Homo sapiens: one gene and its partners. The protein of the gene in region 2 interacts with the protein of the main gene of each other region in a pairwise test. Each region holds a gene or a part of one and is shown on either strand. Other genes may lie near its edges. The genes, in order: GPBP1L1, CNOT11 and CNOT1.

Region 1 (3,730 bases), on a different chromosome or scaffold from region 2:
AAAAGTGTGGTACTGGCAGAAGATGACACAAATAGTCCAATGGGACAGAACAGAGAGCCCACAAATAGACAACTGATCTTTGACAAAGGAAATACAATGGAGAAAAGATAGTCTTTTCAACAAATGGTGAGGGAACAATTGGACAGCCACACTAAAAAAAAAAAAATCAATCTAAACAAAGACCTTACAGCCGTCACAAAAATAAAGTCAAAATGGGTCACAGACCTAAATGTAAAACACAAAACTATAAAACTCCTATAAGGATAACATAAAAGAAAACTTAGATTACCTTGGGTATGACATTTATTTATTTATTTATTTGTTTATTTACTTACTTATTTTTGGAGATCAAGTCTCACTCTGTTGCTCAGGCTGGAGTGCAGTGGCGCGATCTCGGCTCACTGCAACCCCCGCCTCCCATGTTCAAGTGATTCTCATGCCTCAGCCTCCCATGTAGCTGTGACTATGGGTGCATGCTACCATGCCCGGCTAATTTTTCTGTTTTTAGTAGGAACGGGGTTTCGCCAGGTTGGCCAGGCTGGTCTCAAACTCCTGACCTCAGGTGATCCGCCCACCTCAGCCAACCAAAGTGTTGGGATTATAGGTTTGAGCCACCGTGACTGGCCTACAATTAATTAGGCTGGATTTCATTAAAATAAAAAAAATTTCTGCTTTGCAAAACACTCTGTCAAGAGAATTAAAAGACAGTGTAGTTGCTCACACCTGTAATCCTAGCACTTTCGGAGGCCAAAGGTGGGAGGACTGCTTGAGTCTAGGAGTTTAACACCAGCCTGAGCAACATAGCAAGAAGCTATCTCTGTACCAAACAAAATATTAGCCAGGCATGGTGGCACAAGCCTATAGTCCCAGCTACTCGGGAGGCTGAGGCTGAGGCATAGCTTGAGGAGGGGAGGTCGAGGCTGCAGTGAACTGTGATCATTAATGCCACTGCATTCAGCCTGGGCGACAGAGTGAGACACTGTCTCAAAAACAAATATGGCCGGCTGGGCATGGCAGCTCATGCCTGTAATCCCAGCATTTTGGGAGGCTGAGGTGGGTGGATTACCTGAGGTCTGGAATCCGAGACCAGCCTGACCAACATGGTGAAACCTTGTCTCTACTACATACAAAAAAAATTCCAGAAAATAGTATACTCTTTCATCCTCACAGGTCTAATTCCTTATCAGAACCACAAGGCTGTGTTCCAGAGTTATGGTCTGAGCTCTTGGTCTTCAAGGAAGCAGGTTGGCCTTCCTCTGCCTCTTGTTCTGCACTGTAGTTTCCTGGTCCTCTGGCCAGAGCTAAGAAGCTAAATAACGTGTGTCATGTGGTGGCACATGCCTGTAATCCCAGCTACTTGGGAGGCTGAGGCAGGAGAACTGCTTGAACCTGGAAGGCGGTGGTTGCAGTAAGCTGAGATTGCTCCATTGCACTCCAGCCTGGGCAACAGAGTGAAACTCCATCTCAAAAAATAAAGTAATACAAATAAATAAATATGGCCACATGTGGTGGCTTATGCCTTTAATCCTAGCACTTTGGGAGGCTGAGACAGGCAGAACACTTGAGGCCAGGAGTTCAAGACCAGCCTGGCCAACATGACGAAACTCCATCTCTACTAAGAATACAAAAATTAGCTGGGCGTGGTGGCGGGTGCCTGTAATCCCAGCTACTCAGGAAGCTGAGGCAGGAGAATCGCTTGAACCCGGGAAGCGGAGGTTGCAATGAGCCCAGATCGTGCCACTGCACTCCAGTCTGGGTGATAAGAGCCAGACTCTGTCTCAAAATAAATAAATAAGAAAGAATGAAGAGTCAAATCACAGACTTGGAGAAACTGTAGTCAAAGACACATCTAATAAAGGACTATTAACTAAGATATACAAAGAACTCTAAGAACTCTTAAAACTTAGCAATAAGAAAACAGACAACCTCATTAAAAAATGGGTAAGGGACCTGAACAAACACATCAACAAAGAAGATACATAGATGGATGCTCCACATGATATGTCATCATGGAAGTGCAAATTAAAACTACACACCTATCAGGAGGGCCAAAATCCAGAACACTGATAATATCGAATACTGGTGAGGAGGTGTAGCAACAGAAATTCTCATTTATTGCTGGTGGGAATGCAAAATGGCACAACCACTTTGGAAGACAGTTTGGTGGTTTCCTGACAAGCTAAACATGCTCTTACCATATGATCCAGCAATTGCGCTCCTTGGTATTTACCCAAAGGAGTTGAACTTATGCCAGCACAAAAACCTGCACATGGATGTTTACTGCAGTTTTATTCATAGTTGCCAACACTTGGAAGCAACCAAGATGTACTTCAATAGGTGAGTGATTACTAAAATAAACCCGAATTTAACATTTTTGCTGAAAAAAGGATTAAACTCACTTTACTATGTGGTCTAGAAGGCAGTTACACCTACAGACAGTATCTCTGTACATTTAAAAATCTTGCCACATCTTTATCCTTTAAGAAGAAGAAATCACGTATGTATCAAAGGAAAATTCCTAGGCTACCCCCAGAAAAGGCGGATGCTCTTACATCTTCCAGCTTGTCACAGTCTCTATTCTCTGAGAAGTCTCCATTCCGGTCATCCTTCAGAGTTTTCAGGAACTCACTCTTCCTGTCGGTGGTTCGGCGGGTCAACTTGGTCAGACGAGAGGAGCTGATCTCAATTGGAGGGGTGGTGCTGGAGGGACTCTGGGCAAATACCACAAACAGGTTGCTCCTGACAGCAAAGAGCAAGAACTGGGGTTCTCTTCTACTAAGTGCTGACTTCAAGAATCTGGTAGCCTATTTATCACTCTGTCTTAAACCAAACAATCCTTTTATTTAAGCAGTTCAAACTTCAGTTTTGCAGGGTTTATATAGTTAAGAGCAGCTGGCTTACATGGCACCTCTTTGATCTTTCTACAGACATCAGCAGAATGCCAGTCTAACATAGGATGACCTTGGTCCACCACAGAGCATCTATCCCATTTAGCCACTGCCCACTTTTGGATGCTAACAGAAAACATCAATAAAGAAACTATTCTCAGCTAAATATAGCTACAAAACAAGTGTCACAGCTATACATATTACACTTGTTATCTAAGTGAACGGGAAATGGCAATTTCAGAAAAGACTGTCCTGCTTCATCCTCACTCACCTCTTTGGGAGAACTCAGAGCTGCACCACTAGCCAGTACCACTGGTTTGGTAACAGAGATTGGACTGGTAAAAGCAGACTCCCGGCTAGAGGAAAGGGATCCTGACTTGTGCTCCATCCTGTTAGCTTTCCATGCATTAGGCTACACAGGGTGAAAGAACAAATCAGTCAGAACAAGCACACAAACAGAAGCTCAGCTTATAAAATCATAAAGCAAAGAGTGAAATGTTACATGAGAACATAAGTTTCCAGGGCTTACCTGTCTTAACATGTTTGGGAAGTATGCAACCTCTTTCGGAGGTTAGGCACTTCAAGGAAAATGGTAGATGGGATACAGAAGAGCCATTGGACATTAATAGTGACTTCCCAAAAACAGGGCTCTAGTTCAATAGTTCAATGAGTTTGGGAGGTGCCGGGGTGAAAAAAGTTCAACAAGGTTCTTCACTGTGCAATTTCTCAAAGCACTTAACTGCACATAAGAATTTGAGAGGCAGTTATGCAGCATTTTCCTAATTTATTGAATCCCAAAACTTTTTTTAGTAGTGTTTGTTAACTTTGGATGTAATCCTGAT
Region 2 (3,500 bases):
AAATACTGTCTGGTTGTAACAATGTCAAGTCCTTTGCAGGTTTTTTTTTTCTGTCATCTGTTGTAACTAAAAATAATCTTAATGACCAACTAGTTCTCCCAAGAAACAGTCCTGCCCCACCCCACCCAGGTGGAGACCAGAAATACCTGAGAAGGGGGCGGAGTGGGAAGCCGGAGCGGGAATCCGGACAGCTGACCTGCTGCGAGTCATCAGTCTGCAGAACTTTACAGTTCAAGTCACACCCACACTTTGTAATTCAAACAGGTATCCTCAAAGGACTTTTTCTATGAAGTAAGCACTTCCTCTTTAAATGTCCTATGCTTTTTTTCCCCCGTCTACTTAATATGTTCCACAGTGGACTGTGTTTTCAGGATGGTCTTGCGAGCAAAGCGAACTACAAACGTTGCTATTATTTCGTTTTGAAAATGATATTTTTGGTGGCAAACGTGATAGGAGAGGTCATCTCCTAAAAAGTTCTAACTCAAAAGTGTGCAAACTGGATAAAATTCACCAACCAATAGAAGAGTGGCCTTGCCTTTCCTGAGGAGAGTCATCCAGTCTCACACTCGGGCAGTGGGGGCTACTTTAATCTCAAATACACCACGATCCAGCTGTGTGATGGGGGCGGGTTCCCCTTCCCAGCCTTGTTTTCCTCCCTACAGCCTGTCAGTAACTCCACTTTCCATCAGAAGCGTTACCATCAGCTCAAACGTAACCATTGTGTAGTGTCCCACTGTACACAGCAGTGACACCCCCACTACCCCACCTCTCCCAGGGACAAACATCACAAAGAAAAGTTAGAACATTTTTGCCATCAGACTTCTTGCCCCACCACAGCAAAATTACCAAAGAGTAGAACAAAGCTTCAGAGACCCAAAAACCTTTGCAACTTCCTACTGCTCACTCACAGTGACAGGATTAGTTTATTGCTTACCACTTTCCAAAAAAAAAATAAACTCTTGTTGGATTAAAGATAAGAAAATGCTCACAATGGCTGGGTACAGTGGCTCACACCTGTAATCCCAGCACTTTGGAAGGCCAAGGTTGGCAGATCACTTGAAGCCACCAGACCAGCCTGGCCAACAATGGCAAAACCCCATCTCATAAAAATACAAAAATTAGCCGGGCATGGTGGTGCATGCCTGTAGTCTCAGCTGCTGGGGGCGCTGAGGCACGAGTATCACTTGAACCCGGGAGGCAGAGGCTGCAGTGAGCCGAGATCGTGCCACTGCACTCCACCCTGGGCAGCCGAGTGAGACTCTGTCTCAAAAACAAATTTTTTTAATTAAAAATAAATTTAAAAAAAAAGATAAGAAAATGCTTACAATCAATACACACCTGTGTTTGTTGGGGAGAGGATAAGGGGCTTTTGAAGGCTTTGGCCATTATTCGTTTGATCTCCACACCAGTGCTATTCTTAACACACATCGATTTATCCCACTGGATCGCGTGGTCAGGCTCCGTGGGGTTTAGCCAAGCAAGTTCATCCTCACAAATGTGGAGTGGAGGCGGTGGACGAATAAACTCTGGTCGAAAATGGCCTGTAATGAGAGCCGTGATAGTTGCTCCTATCAGGAAGCTAACATCTCTACACATCTCACACATTTCACTTAATAAAGTATGCAAAGAAATCTCTTAATAAGGATGATGTGACTAGAACTCTCATACTTCAAAATCAGAAGCAGGAATGACACAGGAAGTCAGGGTTTCAGTCAGAATGCAAACAAGACAATGAAAGAACACTATGCCAGCATGATGCCAGAGAACAATCTATTCGCTTTGCAGAAGTGAGGAAAGCCTGGCCGTGATCTGCCCATGCTGCACTTGAGCATGGCCACTCAACAGCAAAAGGGCACGACTCCTAAACGGGTGAAGTCTTTTGATGAAAAAATGAAATACTATGCCCTCACACATCCTATTCTTAGTTACCACTATTTGTTCAGCTGCCACTATGATTTGTACTAGTTTTATCTTTGCATCTTATAACTGAAGTAACAAATTACGTGGCGATGAAGCAGCAGGAGGAAAAGTATGGTTGCCTTTTGATATTTCGAAACGAATGTGGAAACCGTCACGAATCCCTAAATTCACAAATACTATATTCATTTTCAGAAAACAATAGAAGTACAAAAGGAAAATGAAGTGGTTCAACTCAACTATTTTATAAAACAAGATTCATCCCTGAGTTACAAACCCACTGAAATAAATGCTGGCTAGGACTTCTGCTGAACCAATTTCACATCTCACATAGTTTCCACATAGGGCAGGAGTGGCTTATTCCTGTCATGGATCCTAGCCCTGCCAAATTTGAGAGTCTACTGTTGAGTTTACAGAAAATATTTTTTAGTTAAAAATCATCACTTTATCTTAAACATCTCCACTGCCTCTTCACTTACCTCACCAGGACTAGCATCTGAATCTCCCTTCAACCACTTACAAAAATAAAGTTTTTAACAATTTATGAGAAATACTACTTATGTGATAGAGAGTTCTTGCGAGGTGGGGACACCTGGTGTTTGGCTAGACCCACTTATTATGAGTGATCTGCTTTTCATATATCTTCCTGGTGACCTATGCAATTTAGAGTTCTGCCCGAGCAAATATTTAAAAGAAGCCATTACATGCCATGGACATTTCAGTCACACTTGTGACCAGCAGAAACTTCAAATATTAAACCTATGTATGTCAAAGATCTACTGTAAACCAAATGGTACAAAAGTCACTGTGTGAACTTCAAACTCATGGTGATACTACACTATCATCTGGTAAACATGTTCTCATCCCAAAGCAGAAAGCTTGCCTTCATAATTCAAAGCACACAGAAGCCTATAAAACAGATGCCAGGTAGAGTGGTGCATGCCTGTAATTCCAACTATGTGGGAGTCTGAGGTAGGAGGATCCCCTGAGCCTCAAGGGATTGAGTCCAGCCTGGGCATCATAGCAAGATTCCATCTCTTAAAGAAATCCCCAAAAAATGCAGCTATATTATTTCAAATTCTACAAGTGTTTTCTTTGAATTAAAGTAAATTAGGAGTTTATAAGAAAAACTTTAAAATGGAAAAGGAAATGATAGCAATAAGAAGATTTAACAGGTATAAAACAAAAAGATAATGAGCTGCTACAAAAAGACTCATTTCAGTAAAATGAGAATCTGTATTTTTTTTTTTTCCTTTTTGAGACAGAATCTCACTCTGTCACCCAGGCTGGAGTGCAGTGGTTCGATCTCGGCTCCTGCAACTTCTGCCTCAGCAATTCTCCTGACTCAGCCTCCCAAGTAGCTGGGACTACAGATGCATGCCACTACACTCGGCTAATTTTTTATTTTTAGTAGAGATGGGGTTTCACCATGTTGGCCAGGCTGCTCTAGAACTCCTGACCTCAAGTTATCCACCTGCCTCGGCCTCCCAAAATGCTGGGATTGCAGGTGTGAGCCACTGCGCCCAGCCTGTATCTTTAGGTATGCATAGGATAGACATGCAACAAACAACTTGGCATGCATT
Region 3 (3,730 bases), on a different chromosome or scaffold from region 2:
ACAAAGTTAGTACAAAAAGTAGTAATTTCCAGAATGAGCTCCCAGGCCGGGCACAGTGGCTCATGCCTGTAATCCAGCACTTTGGGAGGCCGAGGCAGGTGGATCACCTGAGGTCAGGAGTTCGAGACCAGCCTGGCCAACATGGTGAAACCCCATCTCTGCTACAAATATAAAAATTAGTCAGACATGGTGGCCACATGCCTGTAATCCCAGCAGTCGGACGCTGAGGCAGGAGAATCGCTTGAACCCAGTAGGTGGAGGTTGTGGTGAGCCGAGATGGTGCCACTGCACTCCAGCCTGGGAGACAGAGTGAGACCCTGTCTCAAATAAACAGATAAATTAAATAAATAAATAAGCTCACTCTCAATAAAAAGGAAACAGAAAATAAGAATTAAGTATTCTAACACTGCAGGCTGGGCACAGTGACTCACGCCTGTAATCCCAGCACTCTGGGAGGCCAAGACGGGTGGATCACGAGGTCGGGAGTTCAAGACCAGCCTGGCCAAGATGGTGAAACCCCGTCTCTACTAAAAATACAAAAAATTAGCCGGACGTGGTGGCAGGTGCCTGTAATCCCAGCTACTCAGGAGGCGACAAAGCGAGACTGTCTCAAAAAAAAAAAAAAAAAAAAAAAAAAAAAAGCTAACATTGCTAGTTCACATGTAAATTGGTAAAATTTTTCCGAATGCCAGTAAGCATTGGCTTAACTTTATATCCTTTCACGTACCAACTGTACATGAAGCATAACAAAGATTACAAGTCCAAGGAGACTTACTGCAGCTTTATATAAACAAAATGGATCATCATCATCTAAGCATCCAATAAGATATTAAATTTTAGTACACAAATCAAAGGAATACCATATTTAGCACCATAGGTGACTAATTAGGCAAATGAGCAAGTTTTAAGAGTCTGGCCCAATTTTTAAAGTGTGTGTGTGTGTGTATCACAATCTCTCTAATGCTATATGTAGTCTAGGCAATCTGGCAACAGATTCCTAACTATTGTTAGGAAAATGCAAGTATGATCCTGTTATTGCTACTGCTTTCAACCCAGAGGTAATGAGGAAAAGTCCAAGTTCCTTAACATAGACTTCATAGGCCTGCATGATTTAGGACTGGTTATCACCACCACCTCAGAGAAACTCCTGACCTTTAATCAAAATGTGCCTTGTGGTAAACTACTTTTCATTTAAGCCATGATTGCGATTTATAATTCCCTATCTTGTGATAAATGTCCATCAGAATGAGTATTAAGAGGGCAGGAACCATCCATTTTGCTCACAATTGTATCCCACATTTAACACATTATTGGACATGTAAAAGATTTTCACTGAAGGCCGGGTGCAGTGGCTCACGCCTGTAATCCCAGCACTTTGGGAGGCTGAGGCGGGTGGATCACTTGAGGTCAGGAGTTCAAGATCAGCCTGGCCAACATGGTGAAACCCCGTCTCTACTAAAATACAAAAATTAGCTGGGCGTGGTGGCAGGCGCCTGTAATCCCAGCTACTTGAGAGGCTAAGGCACGAGAATCGCTTGAACCTGGGAGGCGGAGGTTGCAGTGAGCCAAGATGGCGCCACTGTACTGCAGACTGAGTGACAGAGCAACACTCCGTCTCAAAAAAACAAAAAAAAAACCAACCAAACGGATTTTCACTGAACACTGAAAGCATAAAGAGGAAAAAAAAAAGATGAAAGGGAGGAGATCCTTTTGAAGCATTTAAAAAATAAGCTGCTCGCTTACCTTGTGATCTGTTCTTGGATGGCTTCCGTATTGGCCTCTGCAAAAAGGTACAGCATGGTGCAACTGAAGTAGTGAGTGTGGCTATTTGGGTACCGGAGCTGATTTGCAATTGCATTCAAAAAGAGATAGCGACCTAGAAATTAAGAAACCTTGACTTAGGACTTAGTCTGAAAGGCCAACATGGGAAGACAGTTCTAACTGGCTAGGGTTTGGGTTTCTGACAGAGGCTTTCAAATTAATCTTTGGTTTAAAGCAGTGGTTCTTGGGACCCCAAAGAGTTCTCATTTCTGTGCGTTTTATTTCAGAATTTTCCACATTAGAAATTAGATTTTAAAAATATTCATTTTTAAAAACAGACCCACTATGTGCTAATGTAAGAAACATGAACTATTTTCTGGTGACACTCATCACTAAGTCTTTCTACATTTTGCAGATCTCTAAGTCTTGCTTAATAAAAGACAGCTGGATTCTCATTTCTGCTTCTGTGTTCAACTTGTTACAGTATATTTCATGTAACCTCTGAGAAATTCAACTGTACACTCATGACAGAATAGACCCAAAAATGTAAATGTTGTTTTATGATGAAAACAGTTTTGGGCCGGGCACGGTGGCTCACGCCTGTAATCCCAGCACTTTGGGAGGCTGAGGCAAGTGGATCACTTGAGGTCAGGGGTTCAAGACCAGCGTGGCCAACATGGTGAAACCCCATCTCTACTAAAAATACATAAAAATTAGCTGGGCATGGTGGCGTGTGCCTGTAATCCCAGCTCCTCGGGAGGCTGAGGCAGGAGAATCGCTTGAACCCCTGAGGCGGAAGTTATGGTGAGCCGATATTGCGCCACTGCCTTCTAGCCTGGGTGTGAGAGCAAGACTCTATCGCAAAAAAAAAAAAAAAAAAAAGTTTTGACCTCACAGCCCTCCTAAAAAGGTCTTGACACCCTAAGGGTACCCAGCCCACATTTTGATTAGTCTAAACTACACTGGAATAAGTATTATCTTAATTGGGTTTGGTTGTTTGCCTCTGCTTGACATTATTCGTGTTTGTGAGTCTGTCACAGTGACACGTTTCTCTAAAGGCTGCCGTCCTTTTATTGCCGAGCTCTTGGACGTGATGGTATTCAATTTTGTTATATCTTGAATTTAAGCTGTCTTAAATCCATCCCACATATAGGCATGCAGCATATATGCAACATCAATTCATCTCTCAAGAATCAATAGCAAAGTTAAAGAGTAGTGTCCCCCTAAAATATATGTATGCAAAACTGGACAGGACTGTACAACTAGTTAGCACCTAACTGGGGTCTCTATTTTATAAGATAAATATAGAGGACCAAATGAAATGTAGCTCAAGCAGAAAAGCTGCAACCTGCAACAGGAGTTATACTGTGAGCTTTTTGCAGAACAGGAGAGTCCTATTCATTAATCTTTATACATGAACATTTAACAAGATGCCTGCCAAACACGCACCAATAAAAATGCTTATATAAGGCAGCCTAACAAAACAATGTAACAAGAGGCTATGTTTAAAGGGACTTTAAGTTTATTTTCACACTAAAAAACTTCAGTCACATACACCAAAACTGATACTGCACGATTCTGGATAATTCTTTCCTTTATGCTTTTTTGTATTTCCTGCACTGAGCAGATAATGTCCAATTAAAGATAAAATAATCAGCTAGACCTGTGAATAAATATACTGACAGAACATTCCTTCACTATTGTGGCTTGAAGCATTTTTACATTTTTGTGATCAGATTGTAGCAAAAAGCACAGAGAACTCTACTCTGAAAACTGGCAGGCTTCACTCACCCTCAGTGTCCAAGTCCACAGCCAAATTCTGGAAGATATCCATGTGTGCTGAGTGAGTGATGGTGCTCATTGAAGGTGTGCTGCCCTTGTTGTGGATGTGCGCAATGGCCTGAGTCCCGACATAGAGCACCAGTGCATTGATGAGCTGGAGGTTGTAGCGATTCCCAGGTTCATTGGA

Evidence for each region.
Region 1: the proteins of CNOT11 (region 2) and GPBP1L1 interact in binary tests that used the Homo sapiens proteins (3 or more experiments, as listed by UniProt).
Region 3: the proteins of CNOT11 (region 2) and CNOT1 interact in binary tests that used the Homo sapiens proteins (3 or more experiments, as listed by UniProt).

Annotation. Positions count from the first base shown.
Region 1 is NC_000001.11:45,630,937-45,634,666, forward strand, and holds part of GPBP1L1 (vasculin-like protein 1), read right to left. Parts: intron 3,301-3,730; coding exon 3,160-3,300; intron 2,740-3,159; coding exon of another isoform or gene 2,712-2,739; coding exon 2,553-2,711; intron 1-2,552. UniProt on the Homo sapiens protein: Possible transcription factor.
Region 2 is NC_000002.12:101,262,886-101,266,385, reverse strand, and holds part of CNOT11 (CCR4-NOT transcription complex subunit 11), read right to left. Parts: intron 1,542-3,500; coding exon 1,339-1,541; intron 265-1,338; exon of another isoform or gene 1-264. UniProt on the Homo sapiens protein: Component of the CCR4-NOT complex which is one of the major cellular mRNA deadenylases and is linked to various cellular processes including bulk mRNA degradation, miRNA-mediated repression, translational repression during translational initiation and general transcription regulation.
Region 3 is NC_000016.10:58,521,627-58,525,356, forward strand, and holds part of CNOT1 (CCR4-NOT transcription complex subunit 1), read right to left. Parts: coding exon 3,553-3,730; intron 2,217-3,552; exon of another isoform or gene 1,877-2,216; coding exon 1,744-1,876; exon of another isoform or gene 1-1,743.